Regions from separate parts of the Homo sapiens genome. Here region 2 is reported to be linked to region 1. Evidence: microRNA targets listed by miRTarBase, many of them from high-throughput screens and not tested one by one. Region 1 holds a microRNA gene; the other region holds the end of a gene's coding sequence.
The links. The annotated mature microRNA hsa-miR-1323 reads UCAAAACUGAGGGGCAUUUUCU and lies in region 1 at 2,046-2,067, shown strand. An mRNA with a match to its seed (bases 2 to 7 or 8) in the 3' UTR can be bound and repressed. Matches are read on the target gene's strand: a 7mer-m8 pairs with bases 2 to 8, a 7mer-A1 pairs with bases 2 to 7 and ends in A, and an 8mer does both.

Region 1 (7,122 bases):
CCTGTTTTCTGCATTTTTAGTAGAGACAGAGTTTCACTATGTTGGCCAGGCTGGTCTCAAACTCCCGACCTTGTGATCTGCCCGCCTCGGATTCCCAAAGTGCTGGGATTACAGGCGTGAGCCACCGCGCCCGGCCTTATTTTTCTTTTTTTTTTTTTGAGACAGGATCCCACTCTATTGCCCAGCCTGGAGTGCAGTGCAGTGATCTCAGCTCACTGCAACCTCTGCCTCCCGGGTTCAAGCAATTCTCCTGCATCAGCCGCCCAAGTAGCTGAGATTACAGCCGTGCCTGGCTTATGTTTTGTGTTTTTAGTGGAGATGGGGTGCCACCATGCTGGCCAGGCTGGTCTTAAACTCCTGACCTCAGTTGATCCTCCCACCTCAGTCTCCCAAAGTGCTGGGATTACAGGTGTGAGCCACCGCGCCCAGCAAGCATAAGATTTTTTGACACATGGAGGATCACTTGCTGGATGTGCACTGAGAAGTAATGTGCCCATTTCCCAGCCACACTCTCCCAAAGGCTTTTACAGGCGCTGTCCCCGTGAGGTGGTAGAACAGAATGTCAGAATTCAACACATTCCAACACTGTCTTCTGTTGAGCTGTAGGAGGACTGCCTGTGGAGGGACATGGGTTCTATGCTACCTTGCAGGTTTTCCCTGGGGCTTGTGATCACTGTCTCCTTGGTGACATGCAATCTGGGAGTGCTTTCTGGAGTCTGATAAGAACATACTGGCACATTGCCTGTGACGTGTGGGACCCAGGCATTTTCAGTGCTGAGGTGAGTCCTTGATTGTAACTGATGGGGACTGGTATCTTAACTCCAGGTTACTGAAGACTAGGAATTTCTTGCCTTACAGTAAAATTGCAAAGAAGAGTAGCATAAGAGGTAGATCAGAAGACTGCAGAATAGATTAACAAATGAATGCCCAAATGAGGATGCTAAACTTGGATTTGCATCAAGAAGACAGATATTGGTCGGGCGTGGTGGCTCACGCCTGTAATCCCAGCACTTTGGGAGGCTGAGGCGGGTGGATCATCCTGGCTAACACGGTGAAACCCCGTCTCTACTAAAAAAATACAAAAAAATTAGCCGGGCGTGGTGGCAGGCGCCTGTAGTCCCAGCTGCTGGGGAGGCTGAGGCAGGAGAATGGCATGAACCCAGGAGGCGGAGCTTGTAGTGAGCCGAGATCGTGCCACTGCACTTCACCCTGGGCGACAGAGCGAGACTCTGTCTCAAAAAAAAAAAGGACAGGTATTAGGATAGTTTTGAAGCCCACTTGCTCCTATCATGGCATTGAAGCATCAGTTTGCTGCCAATCACTCCTTCTTCTGTGTTCATAGACAGGACTGTGGAAATGTACACTTGGATTCTTTCACAGGTAATGCTGAGAAATTTAAAACCAAAAACGGCCGGGTGCCGTGGCTCCTGCCTGTAATTCTAGCACTTTGGGAGGCTGAGGCGGGCGGATCACAAGGTCAGGAGTTCGAGAGCAGCCTGGCCAATATGGTGAAACCCCATCTCCACTAAAAATACAAAAATTAGCCTGGCATAGTGGCGGGCCCCTGAAGTCCCAGCTACTCAGGAGACTGAGTAGACGAGGAGAATGGCTTGAACATGGGGTGCAGAGGTTGCAGTGAGCTGAGATCGCACCGCTGCACTCCAGCCTGGGCAACAAGAGTGAAACTCTGTCTCAAAAAAAAAAAAAAATTTGAAATTAAAGTGTATGATTAGAGTGCATGATTGGTTCTGACTGGATGTGTAACATGTGCATAGCCTTCTCATAAATCAAAGGTTTTTATGTGAAACCTACCACTAGTGATGTAACTGAATTTGTGTAAATGCTGGTGTGTCTGCCTTTTCCTAGCAACTCCCTGGGCAGCCTGAGGATTCTTTGAGGTTATTTTTTTTCAAGATCTGGCTGGGAGCTTCTGCATGAGTGCTGTGTGAACGTCCTCCATCTGCAGTGTGAGGACAGCGAACCCTAGTGTGAGTTAACCACGTAGGAAGAGTTTGAAGTCAGACATGACATTCAGACTGAGGTCCTCAAAACTGAGGGGCATTTTCTGTGGTTTGAAAGGAAAGTGCACCCAGTTTTGGGGATGTCAATTGTGAATCCTCATCATAACCCATCCCCAGTCCCCCATCGCATTGCACCACATGGATGCACCCAGTGGACTGGCCTTTGCTTTTCTATTGTTTCTTTTTCTCTCCACTGCAATCAGCTTTCTCACGTTGAATGCATTCCATTTTCTAAGCGCTCTCCTAGGCAAAAATCCCTCTAATGCAAAGCAAAAATGTCTGTTATGCAACATTGTTCTGAGACCCCAGGAATTGCAGTTAACTTGGCTCCTTAGTATGTGCTTCCTAAGGCGGGTGGGGTGGCTCGCGCCTGTAGTCCCAGCACTTTGGGAGGCAGGCGAGGCACTTGAAACCCTGTCTCTACTAAAAATACAAAAATTAGCTGGACATGGTGGCATGTGCCTGTAATCCCAGCTACTTGGGAGGTGCAGACAGGAGCATCGCTTGAACCCAGGAGGCAGAGGTTGCAGTGAGCCAAGATAATGGCACTGTACTGCAACCTGGGTGACAGAGCGAGACTCAAAAAAAAAAAAAAGTGCTTCCTGTGAAGGTTTCCTTTCCCTTCTGCCCCCCATACCAGTCCATCTATTTAGTAGATGTCCTGGTTTCTACCCAGGATATCATGGACCAGGGGTTCTGTCTTCCAGCCTTGAGTACAATGGTGCGACTATAGCTCACTGCAGTCTCAACCTCCTGGGCTCAAGTGATCATCCTGCCTCAGCCTCCAAGTAGCTGGTATTACAGATGCACGTGCCCCCATTCCCAGAGGTTCTTAAATTTATGACAAAAACCCAGAAGCTTGGCTGAAGCAGCTTGTTGGGGCCCACCCACAGATTTTGTTTGGTGCCATAGACCTGGGTTGGGATCTGGGGAGCCATTTTTCTTAGTCTCAATGTAAATGTCTAAGCATTTTCTTTTTTTCTTTCTTTTTTTTTTTTTGAGACAGGGTTTCGCTCTTGTTGCCTAAACTGGAGTGCAGTGGCACAATCTCGGCTCACTGCAACCTCTGCCTCCTGGGTTCAAGTGATTCTCCTGCCTCAGCCTCCCAAGTAGCTGGGATTACAGGTGTGCACCACCATGCCCGGCTAATTTTTTTTTATTTTTTTATTTTTTTTATTTTTTGAGATGGAGTCTTGCTCTGTTGCCCAGGCTGGAGTGCAGTGGTGTGATCTCGGATCACTGCAAGCTCCGCCTCCTTGATTCATGCCATTCTCCTGCCTCAGCCTCCCGACTAGCTGGGACTACAGGTGCCCGCCACCACGCCCAGCTAATTTTTTTGTATTTTTAGTAGAGACGGGGTTTCACTGTGTTAGCCAGGGTGGTCTCGGTCTCCTGATCTCGTGATCTGCCTGCCTCGGCCTCCCAAAGTGCTGGGATTACAGGCTTGAGTCACTGCCCCTGGCCAATTTTTTGTATTTTTAGTAGAAATGGAGTTTCACCATGTTTCCTGCCTATCTCTCTATGTATTTAGACAGGGTCTCACTATGTTGCCCAGGTTGGTCTCAAACTCCTGGACTCAAGCAATCCTCCTGCCTCCACCTTCCAAAGTGCTGGGACTACAGGCTTGAGCCATCCTGCCTGACCATTTGAGAGTTTTTTTTTTTTGAGATGGAGTCTCTCTCTGTCACCCATGCTGTAGTGCAGTAGTGTGATCTTGCCTCACTGCGACCTCTGCCTCCCGGGTTCAAGCAATTCTCCTGCCTCAGCATCCCCAGTAGCTGGGATTACAGGCGCCCGCCACTACACCCAGCTAATTTTTGTATTTTTAGTAGAGACAGGGTTTCACCATGTTGGCCAGGCTGGTCTCGAACTCCTGACCTCAGGTGGTCTGCCCACCTCCGCCTCGCAAAGTGCTGGGATAAGAGGCGTGAGCCACCGTGCCTGTCTTCAACAATGATTTCTAATTGCATTTTATGGTGGTGATTGAACATAATGTACTTTGGTCCTTCTCCATTGTATGCCTCGTGTATTATGTGTCTCATAACGTCTGTCCCGTCCTATGCTATGTGTGCATTTGAATGTTGGGGAGGGTTCAGTAGATGTCCATTGAGTTGGTTTGCAAACTTATTTGAAACTTCTACTTACTTCTGCCTAATTCTGCTTATTATTGAGAGTGGACTGCTCTGGGATGCCTTTTGTTTGCACTCTGATTTCAGATGGACCCTGAGAATGCTCAAGCCCCAAACCCTCCTTGGGAAGTGAAGCTCAGGCTGTGATTTCAAGCCAGGGGGCGTTTTTCTATAACTGGATGAAAAGCACCTCCAGAGCTTGAAGCTCACAGTTTGAGAGCAATCGTCTAAGGAAGTTGATGGCAATGTTAATAGTTTTTTAAACAAGCATGAAATCAGATTCCTGTGTTTACTTCTGGATGCTGTTGATCCAGGAAATGTACTTAGAAAATTCATTTTAACGGAAATAGTCATAAGCGTCTTGGTAATTTCATGAAGCTACAGTGAGTAAATTGCCTGAGAATTTCCCTGCCTGAAAGGTCTTCAGGAGTGTAATTTTTTTTTAATATAGCTTATTTAATACAAATAGAGATGCGGTCTCACTCTTGCCTAGACTGGTGTGCAGTGTCATGTTCACAGCTCACTGCAGCCTCTCAACCTCCGGGGCTCAAGCATCCTCCTGCCTCAGCCTCCCAAAGTGCTGGAATTACAGGTGTCAGCCACCACTCCCTACTCATACTTGTATATTTCTCTTTAAATTCTGTTGAGGTTTTATGGCCTAGCCTGTGGTCTATCCTGGAGAATATTTGTGTGCATGACAATGTGTATATATATATATATATATATATTTTTTTTTTTTTTTCTTTTTTTTGAGATGGAGTTTCACTCTTGTTGCCCTAGCTGGAGTACAGTGGCATGAATCTCAGCTCACTGCAACCTCCGCCTCCCGGGTTCAAGCGATTTTCCTGCCTCAGCCTCCCGAGTAGCCGGGATTACCCTCCACCACACCCGGCTAATTTTTGTATTTTTAGTAGAGGTGGGGTTTCGCCATATTGACCAAGGTGGTCTTGAACTCCTGACCTCAGGAGTCCCGCCTCGGCCTCTCAAAGTGCTGAGATTACAGGCGTGAGCTACCCTGCCCAGGCTGACCATGTATATTCCTAATTTTTGTACTTTTTTTTTTTTGAGACGGAGATTCACTCTTGTGGCCCAAGCTGGAGTGCAATGGCATGATCTCGGCTCACTGCAACCTCTGCCTCCTGGGTTCAAGCAATTCTCCTGCCTCGGCCTCCCGAGTAGCTGGGATTACAGGTGTGCACCACCACGCCTGACTGACAATATATATTCTTAAACAGCTCAGATTCCATTTTGGATCCTCCCATCAGGACTGGAACTTAGGTGTACTGGAACTTAGGTGAACACTTGGCTCAAAATTCATTGCTGTTCTCTATAAATCTAGCCAGTTCTCTTGGTTAAATTTAAGGTATGTATAGTAGTCGCTGCTTTTTCTTTCGGGGGACAAAACTCAGGAGGATTGCTTCTTGATTCATAAGGGCAACCTGTTGAGATTTTCACGCAAGGAACCCGAGATGTTCATTTAATGGGCTTATAATTTGGGATTCCAGAACACATGCAAACAGGGCAAATGAATGTTTGGCTGTATCTTTATTTTTGTGTTCATTTCAGCCTGGTCAAGGTTTTAGAATCCAAGGAAACCAATAAACACCCAGAGTGCTGGAGCAAGACTGTCTCCTGCTGTGACCCTCAAGATGGAAGCAGTTTCTGTTGTCTGAAAGGAAAGAAAGTGCTTCCTTTTTGAGGGTTACTGTTTGAGAAAAGCAACCTTGAGGTTGATGCTGATGTTTGTAACACACCTGCAGAGTATACTTATAATCAGACTTGGGTGATGTGAGGTTTTGTTTTTACTCCAAGATGAGGGTCTCCACCCAGGCTGGAATGCAGTTGCCCTTCCAACCTAGAACTCCTGGGATGAACTGGTCCTCTATGCCTCAGCCTGCCGAGTAGCTGGGACTATAATATAGGGGTGTGCCGCCATATTTGGTAGATTTTTCAATTTTTTGTAGAGATGGGGCCTCACCCTGGCCAGGATGGTCTCAACTCCTGAGCTCAAGCAATCCTACAGGTGTGAGCCACCGTGCCCATTTTAAAGATAGTTGACATGATCAAGCATAGTGGGACACACAGCCCCAGCTACTGCAGAGGCTGGGGTGGGAGAGTCTCTTGATTTCAATGCTATACCGTGCACTAATGACACCTTTGAATAGCCACTGCACTCCAGCCTGGGCCAACATAGCAAGATCCCATCTCTTAAAAAAAAATACATTACATGGCACCTGGTTCCAGAGACACCATTTGTGTTGGTCAAACAATGGCCTCCTATAAATTTAGTTTAATGAATCCAAACCATGTTTCCTTCATTAAGAGAGTAAATAAGCCTCCAAGTCTATCCAGTCTTTTTGAGACAGAGCTTGGCTCTTGTCACTCAGGCTAGAGTGCAATGGTGCAATCTCAGCTCACTGCAACCTCTGCCTCCTGAGTTCAAGGAGTTCTCTCACCTCAGCCTCCCAAGTAGCTAGAATGACAGGCGCCTGCCACCATGACCAGCTAATTTTTGTGTTTTTACTAGAGATGGGGTTTCACCATGTCGGTCAGGCTGGTCTCGAACTCCTGACCTCCGTGATCCACCCACCTCAGCCTCCCAAAGTGCCGGGATTACAGACGAGAGCCACCACGCCCGGCCTGTCCAGTCTTGTTCTGCAGTCCCCAATGGGGATTTTTTTTTTCCTGTTCATTTGTCTTTTTATTTTAATCTACTTGTCCCTGACACTGAAAATTTTTCCTTCCTAACAGCTTACCATCATTTCTCAGAATAGACCTGCTTCCTCTGTGAGAAGCTTATAGTTGATTCAACCCTCAACCACTAATGCCAACAACCCTAGTGAGTTCTTTTGACTACAGCTGGACCATTTATCCTGTTTCCTGTGGGTAGCGGTTCCAATGTACCATTCCAACAGGCAAAACCTCGCCTCTGAATACAGGTTGCTTGGCAAGATCTAAAATGTTTGCTGTGC
Region 2 (7,106 bases), not on the chromosome of region 1:
GGGCCACCGTGCTGGGGCCTGGGCCCAAGGAGGTGTGTGTTGCTTGGCTCTGTGGTGTCAAGGCCCTGACCTTCCAGTGCACCTCCACCAGTGGCCAATGGGGATACCCGGGGGCCTTGGCTCTCTGGCCCTGCTGCTTCCAAATTTGTCAATGCAGTTACCCAGCCCTGAGCCGGTTAATGTTTGTGACAAGCTCCTCTTCCTCTGCAGCCTTGCTTTGGTGGCTGGAGGATGAGTCCTTCTAATGGTCAGGTGGACTTTCCCTGGGCTGGGCCATCTGCTGCCACCCGTGTTGAACTGGGAAGGACTGGGAGACACCTAAAGACTGATTACAAAGGATTCTCTGGAATGGTCCAGGTCTACAGTGACCTCATGGAGTGATGGGAACCCACTACTGTGCATCTGGCTACAAAAGCTACCTGCAGAAAACTGTCTTCATCCCAGCTGGTTCCAAAATGCTCCCCTGCGAACAGTGAGCCTCATATTTGTGAGGTGGGGCTAGCGGCAGGGCAGGCATTCACTTGTCTGTGAACAGAAGCCACCGCTGCTGCCCGGTGTATCTAACCATCTTGTACCCATAGGAGCCAGGTCACTGGGTCAGCTAAAGTTCTCACAATAATAGAACCTAGATTTGATGAAAGCTGAAATTGACATTTTCTGGCCTCTTAATAGTTTTCAATTTACTGATTTAATTTCCTTTTTTCAATAAATACTTATCCAGTGCCTAATATGTGTCAGGCACTGTTGTAGGCACCAGGATACAGCAATGAGCAAGACATATAAAAGTTCCTGCCCACATGGAGCTTACAGTCTATGGGAGATGGGGAGGCGAGAATCAAATAAATGGATGAATGATTAACATCTGCAGCACTCAGATGGTGATAGGTGCACAAGAAGAAGATGCAGAGAGGTGGGTAGGGAGGGAGGGTGGGGTGTGTTGTCCTTTTAAATAAGTCAGGGAAGGCCTCGTTGAAAGGTGACATTGGAGCAAAGACTGGCAGGTAGTGAGGGGTGAACCATGTGGCTCTCTGGGGAAGAATGTTCAGGTAGAAGGAATGGCATGTGCAAAGGCCCTGAGGCAGGAGGGTGCCTGTGACTAGAAACGGCAGGAAGGCCTACGTCCCAGGGCAGAGCAGCAGGCAGAAGAAGTACTGGGATGGGAGAGGCCTTTGTAAGGACCTGGCTTTTCCTCTGCCATGGGAGGCTGTTTCTTCGTTTAAAGGAGCACTCCAGTGTCTGCAGATAAATTCTAAAACAGCTGGTTTCACTCATTTGTCCTCATTAAATAGGTTGCTTTGGTCTTGAATAAATTCAGCCTATATTTACTCTTAAAACCAAATGGTACTCTTCGCCTTATGTTAAACTAACAAATTATGTATATATATATCCTTGATATGCTCTTTGGGAGGAATAAAAAGATGCAAGCAATGTGCATCATTCTGTATGTACATAATTAGGATTAGTGAGGCCCCCTTTTTTGGCAAGATTAAAATAGCAAAAATGCAATTTTCAACAAATCATTTGGCAAAATAAATAGAAACAGTAACATTACTAGCATGGTTGGAGATGATGGCTTCAGTGCTACTCTGCAACTACGTGTGTCTTCGGCTCAGCCTGGTGGGGCCAAGTTCTTCATACTGCACAGACTGCACATAACTGTTGTTCCCAAGGGGTCCCTGCAGGGCATCTCCCTCGCTCTTTTCTGCTGGGGGTGCAGTGGGGAGGAATAATAGATCTTTTGGCAAAGAAGGGACCTGCATAACTGCTAACAGGCCAATTTGCACAGTGCCCGGAGCTGTCTTTTGTGACAGAAGCTTGCAGAGTGGTCCAGCCTGGATGTGCCGCAGGGCCTCCTGGGGTGAGCGTGGGGGGCTCTCCCCATGGCGTGTGCTGGCCTCTCTATCGTGAACTACCCAGGACCCACTCCCGAGTCAGTGAGGCAGCACTGGCAGAAATACACTCCGGGCCAACAGACCCAGAGCTGTGGAGAGGACACGGGCAACAGGGTGGACTTGAATTAAACAAGAACAAAGCTGAGCGCTGGTCACTGCCCCGGCCAGCCACACTAAAACAGGCCAGCTAGAGTTTAGAGTCAGGAGTAAATGGGAAGGTGGTGCCTCAGATCTCTAGAGAGCCACCACTTTAAGGCGTTTTGGAAGGGGCCACCTGCTCCCTGGCATGCCAGCCACCTCTAGGCCCTTCATACGGTGTGTCTGTCCTCAGCTGGCAGCAGAACCGGACTCAACTAGAGCAGGGGCCGCCTCTGCAGCCCAGCGAGGATGAAGCCAGGGCTGGTAAGGTCTGTCTGGCCCAGCAGGGCTTGCTCAGCCACAGAAACACATTTCTTCTTATCTATTAGAAGCACTGAGGAAAGAAAAAGGACAGAACACTGGGGGTACTTAATTTTAAAGTCCACACCAAGATGAGGAGAAAAAAAATCATGGCCATAAAGAAAGGAGCCCCAAACATACAGTAGATGCCTTCAGCTTTTACTCCAGGTCTCTTCGTAAATAAAAGACTCACATGGAATGGAACTTACACACATGGATTTGGAAAAGTCTGTTTTTTCTTGTACAAATTTCCCACCACTGATAAGTACAGCCCTTTTATCTTAACCAATGGGAAGTATATTTTAAGTTTATTTTTGCAAAGTAGAATAGTTCGCAAAATAAGTTTGTGGACACTAAGTGGGGGGGGGGGGTGATGGGCCCATGACCCCTCCCCAGAGACAGGGCGGGCTCTGCATGGAGGATGTCCACACCCTGAGGTGTGCACCTGGGGGGCATGGAGAGTCCTTTTATCTTCAGCACCCCCAATTCTTGACAGTAAGCTACGAGAAGTAGTAAATTAAATCATTTGGGAAAACATTCGATTTGTAAATAGATTCAAATGCCACTGGGTGGTAATAGGTATGAAAAGGTCCACAGTAATTTAGTGAATACAAAGTATTCATTTAAGAGGAAAGGTGCAGTACCAAAATCCATGAACAGAAAAAAGGAAATCAAGCTTTCAATAAAAAAAGACACTGATACATTCCCACTTTCAGAAGGTATTTGAACAAGCAGCAAAAAGCGTTTAACCCCCCGGAGCCCACAGTGGAGCTCCTTCCCACCTCCAGTTACCCTTCCAAGGGACAACCCTGTGGCAATAACGGGTGCAAAATATTGCTCTGTGGCATGTTCTGAAAATAATACAAAAATAATTTTTATAGTACAGTTTAAACTTGGCTTGTAAAATTTCAACGTAACACAGCATAAAGTCTACCAACAGAATACACTGAAAAACACCTTCCCTTAACAATATTTTAAAAAAATCATTTACCCAGATAACAAATGTGCAGGAAATGTAAAGTAAATTTCTGAAATAACCTTCGCAGGGGTTTAGAAGTATCTGGGATCCTCTGGAAACCTGCAGTCCCTTGGAGACACCTGTCCTTCCTAGAAAGGGAAGTGTGGCCAGATCAGGTGGGGAAGGCTGCTCTCAGGCAGGGTCAGCTAGGGCAGCAGGGCCATGCACCCCGGTAGGACTCACCTTCTTCCCTTTCTCCCTGCTCCACAAAGGGCCCTCACGCCATGGAACACGAGGGAAGCCCTTGGCCCACATGCAGTCAACACAGTTTTTAATAGTTTCTGGCCAGCCTGCTGAAGTTGGTCTCTGGCCAGGGACGAGGTCTACACGCCTCTTCTCAAGGAGCATGCTGTCGGTGCACGGGACTAGCACATTTAATATGACCATCCGCTCTCTCCCTTTTGCATTTTTAATACTGTTTAGAGGAAGGATGGATCCAGCTCTCTCACAAAAGGAAATGGCTATTCCTAAGTCATGTGGACTGAGTGGTAATGTATCAGCCTGGAGCAGGTGTCTACAGGCGTCTGGCGCCTCGTTACCACATTGAGAAGCTGGGGTGCAGGATGCAGCCAGTGGCTTTATCTCAGGCTCTTATTTAGGGCACATCTGTCATCAGATGGTGATGGGTGGAGGTAACTTGGAAATGCAAGGGTAGAATAGGTCCTGGTGTTTTGATAATTACGTACTCTGCCTGGTTTGGAAGGTTTTCCTCTATTACAATGGACGGTTTTTATTCTGTTTTATTTTTTTATTTTTTAAATTAGACAAACCTGGCAGATAGCGTGAGAAAGAAAATATCTGAATTAGCATAGCCAGTTTTAGAAATTTCTGGTTGGCTGTTTTTACATTAAGAAATGAAAAAAACAAGCAAGAATTGACTTTATGCCTCCTTGACATCTTGTGCATATGAGTTTGGTTTCTGAATGGATTATTGGAGCATTTTTAAGGTTGGGTGTCTCAATCTTTTAAGAGTGACGAGCATGAGGAGTGGCTGGCATCCACACCTGAAGCAACACTTTCTGTGATCCCACAGCTTTGGATGCCAAAGCAGCTGCTCAGCGTGACACGAAGAATCAGTCCAGAAAGCTGCCACAGACCCTCTCCATGAGATTTTTAAAAAACCACTTTTGTTTTCTGAGTAATAAAAGAAACCCCAGTAATATTAGGGACATGGATGTTAGTACAGTAATTACCACACATTGAAAATATTGTTCAGCAGGAAAAGTAAAACTTTCAAAAAATTTCTTAAAGATCCTATTTAATAAATAATTTTTGATTTAAGGAACCACTTATGCAAAACTTGAACAAATTACTGAAAACTCCACCTGCTGTGGAATAATTAAAAACAAAAAGGCATTACTCACAGGAGATACTCAATTATTTTATTATAATTTCTCAAACAAGTAAAAAAAATCCCCTCGCCCCCCCTTTTTTTTTGTTTTTGCTGCTCTTTAGTTAGGGAAAAAAGCATCGTTTCTAGAGGAGAAGCTGGCTCCAGTGAAGAGATGGTCGACCTCCTGCTTTTTCTGAGGATACACTCACAGCAAAGCCAGGCGCTTTCTCCTGTCCTAGGATTATTAGAAGCTATTCTAAGGCTCTCACAGGTTTTATAGTATTCTTTGTTAGTGAGGATTTTACCCATCTTATCCTCATTTCTTGGAAACAAGCTCGTTCCTTAGTGAGGCAGATTTAGCTCCTCAGTGTCCTTGGCCAAGAACGGTGTTCTCCGGAGGTAATCTTGGAAGGAAGAGGCTGCATATTGCTGCTCAAAACAGGGTAGCTAAGGACACATTTTTTTTTTCCTCAAGAAATGTAGGAGGCACCAAAAAAGAGACCGCTCAGGGATCGGGCTGCTCCCTCATTGTGTCACGAGACGGAGGCAGGGTCGTCCTGCCCCGTGGAGGGGCCACGATCACAGTGAGTCCCTTTACCTGGCTGAACCCAGACAGATGCAGGTGTGGGGGTGGGCTTCCTTCCTGGTTCCCCCAGCCCCTTCCCTTTGGAAAGAGCAGCAGCCTAGTGGGGGCTTACACAGTGACCAAAGGGTCAATTCCTCGCTGTCTCCCGGGGCACCGATGGTCACCGCCCAGGGGCCCGCCAGCGACAGTCCACTGTGGAAGTGCCTTCAAAGGAGAAATGTGAGCAGCCTGTCCTATCTGCTCCTCTATGAGCAAATCCAAATTGTGAGATGGGAACCCTGCTTTTTGGACCCTAGGTGTCTTTGGAAAGCTCCTGTCACCTGAACTGCCCGGCACTGGGAGCCATCGCTGTACCTCACGGCGCCCGCGAGACGGGTGGTCCAGTGCCCTTTCCACGGCCGCCCGCGGCTTGGATGGCAGTGTGAATGGTGCTTGAGCCGGGGCTGGGGGAGGAGGTTTTGCTTATGAAATGGAGCTGTGTGTTTCTAAAGGGCCACAGTGACCACCAGGGCGTCAGCTGGCGGCCAGGTACCCGCCTTCTCCTAGGCCTCGGGATGGGAGGCAGGTAGAGCTCACAGAGGAGCCTCCACCGCAGCCCCGGGTGCGCGCTCGCTCTAAGCCCTGGGTACTACCAACCGCGCACAAGGGACCGCTACCTGGAAGAGGTCATCGCTAGGGTAGGAGAAAAAAAAAAAAGCAAAAAAAGCATGTAAAACACTCCCTTCTTAAAACAAAGGGCTGCGAATTTCTTTATTTCTCTTACTGAGGAACAAAAATACTCTTGCAATGGCTATTGAGTTTCCACAGGTACGAGGCAGATGCTAGGCTAGCACACCCACTTCCAACAGTATGACTTGTTTCCTATCCGTCTACTACCTGAGTGGCGTCAGTGTAGGTTCAGGCACCATTAGGAACGTTTGACCAAACACGTACACGGCACTGACAGAGGAGGCGCCGGCCTTCCGGTGGACCAGGGCATGTAAAAAAGACACCGACACAATGGAAAAGAAATCCTCGAAGGTAGAACCTCGCCGCCCGCGCCGCGCCGCGCCGCTCAGGGCCGGGCCCCGCGCGCCTCGCGCCGCCGCCGCAGCTCCTCGCGGTAGCAGTAGGAGCAGTAGTGCTCGGTCTCGGCGCGCCCGTAGAACGCACAGTTCTCGCGCTGGCAGCGCCGCTGCACCGGCCCCGGGCCGCCACGGCCGCACTCACCGTTCGAGCGCGCGGTCGGCGCGTCGGCGTCGGCGAACTCCAGGCCGTCGCGCAGGGCGCCGAAGCCGTTGGTGTAGGTCTGCGACTTGTGCTCGGCCGCCCCCGCCGTCCCCGCCGCGCCCGGTAGGGCCCCGGGCACCGCGCGCGCCAGCGACTCGACCGTGTTGACGGTGCGCAGGGCGGCGGCGCGCGCCGGGCTGTAGCTCTGCGACGACAGCGAGCGGTTCTGCTGCGGGTACGTGGCGCACGGCCGCAGCGCCCCCACGGCCGGCGCGCACGCCTCGTCCCGCGCGCCCGACGCCTGCACGTGGATGACGCTCTGGCGCGCTGGCGCCGGGGGGCTGCGGCCAGGCACTGGTCCGCTGGCGCTCGCACGCCGCGCGCCTCCCCCCGGGGAGGCCGTGCCGCCCGCCGCCGCCCGCGCCGCACGCCCTGCCGCGGGCCCGGGGCTCGGCCGCTCCTTGAGCTTGAGCACCAGCTGCGTGGGTGGGCCCGGAGAGGCGCGCTCCGGGACCGGCACGCCCTCCGTCTCCGGTCTGCGCGGCGGCCGCTTGGCCGTGGCGGCGGCGGCGGCGGCGGCAGCGGCGGCCGCAGTAGCGGCGTCGCGGCGCCGCTGCTCCTGCTCGGCGC

Region 2: the mRNA of OTUD7A is a reported target of hsa-miR-1323. Seed matches in the 3' UTR shown: 7mer-A1 at 5,115-5,121 and 7mer-m8 at 4,643-4,649.

The regions. Positions count from the first base shown.
Region 1 is chr19:53,669,933-53,677,054 of GRCh38, forward strand. MIR1323 (microRNA 1323) reads left to right here and starts at 2,036; the gene lies at 2,036-2,108. MIR498 (microRNA 498) reads left to right here and starts at 4,265; the gene lies at 4,265-4,388. MIR520E (microRNA 520e) reads left to right here and starts at 5,779; the gene lies at 5,779-5,865. All of the region lies in intron 2 of LOC107985342 (a long non-coding RNA gene), which reads left to right. RefSeq lists an enhancer at 1-112.
Region 2 is chr15:31,476,973-31,484,078 of GRCh38, forward strand. OTUD7A (OTU deubiquitinase 7A) reads right to left here. Exons shown (of 13, transcript NM_001382637.1): 13 at 1-7,106. The coding sequence ends at 6,322. Among named protein-coding and RNA genes, the nearest start is that of KLF13, 150 kb to the left of the region's middle.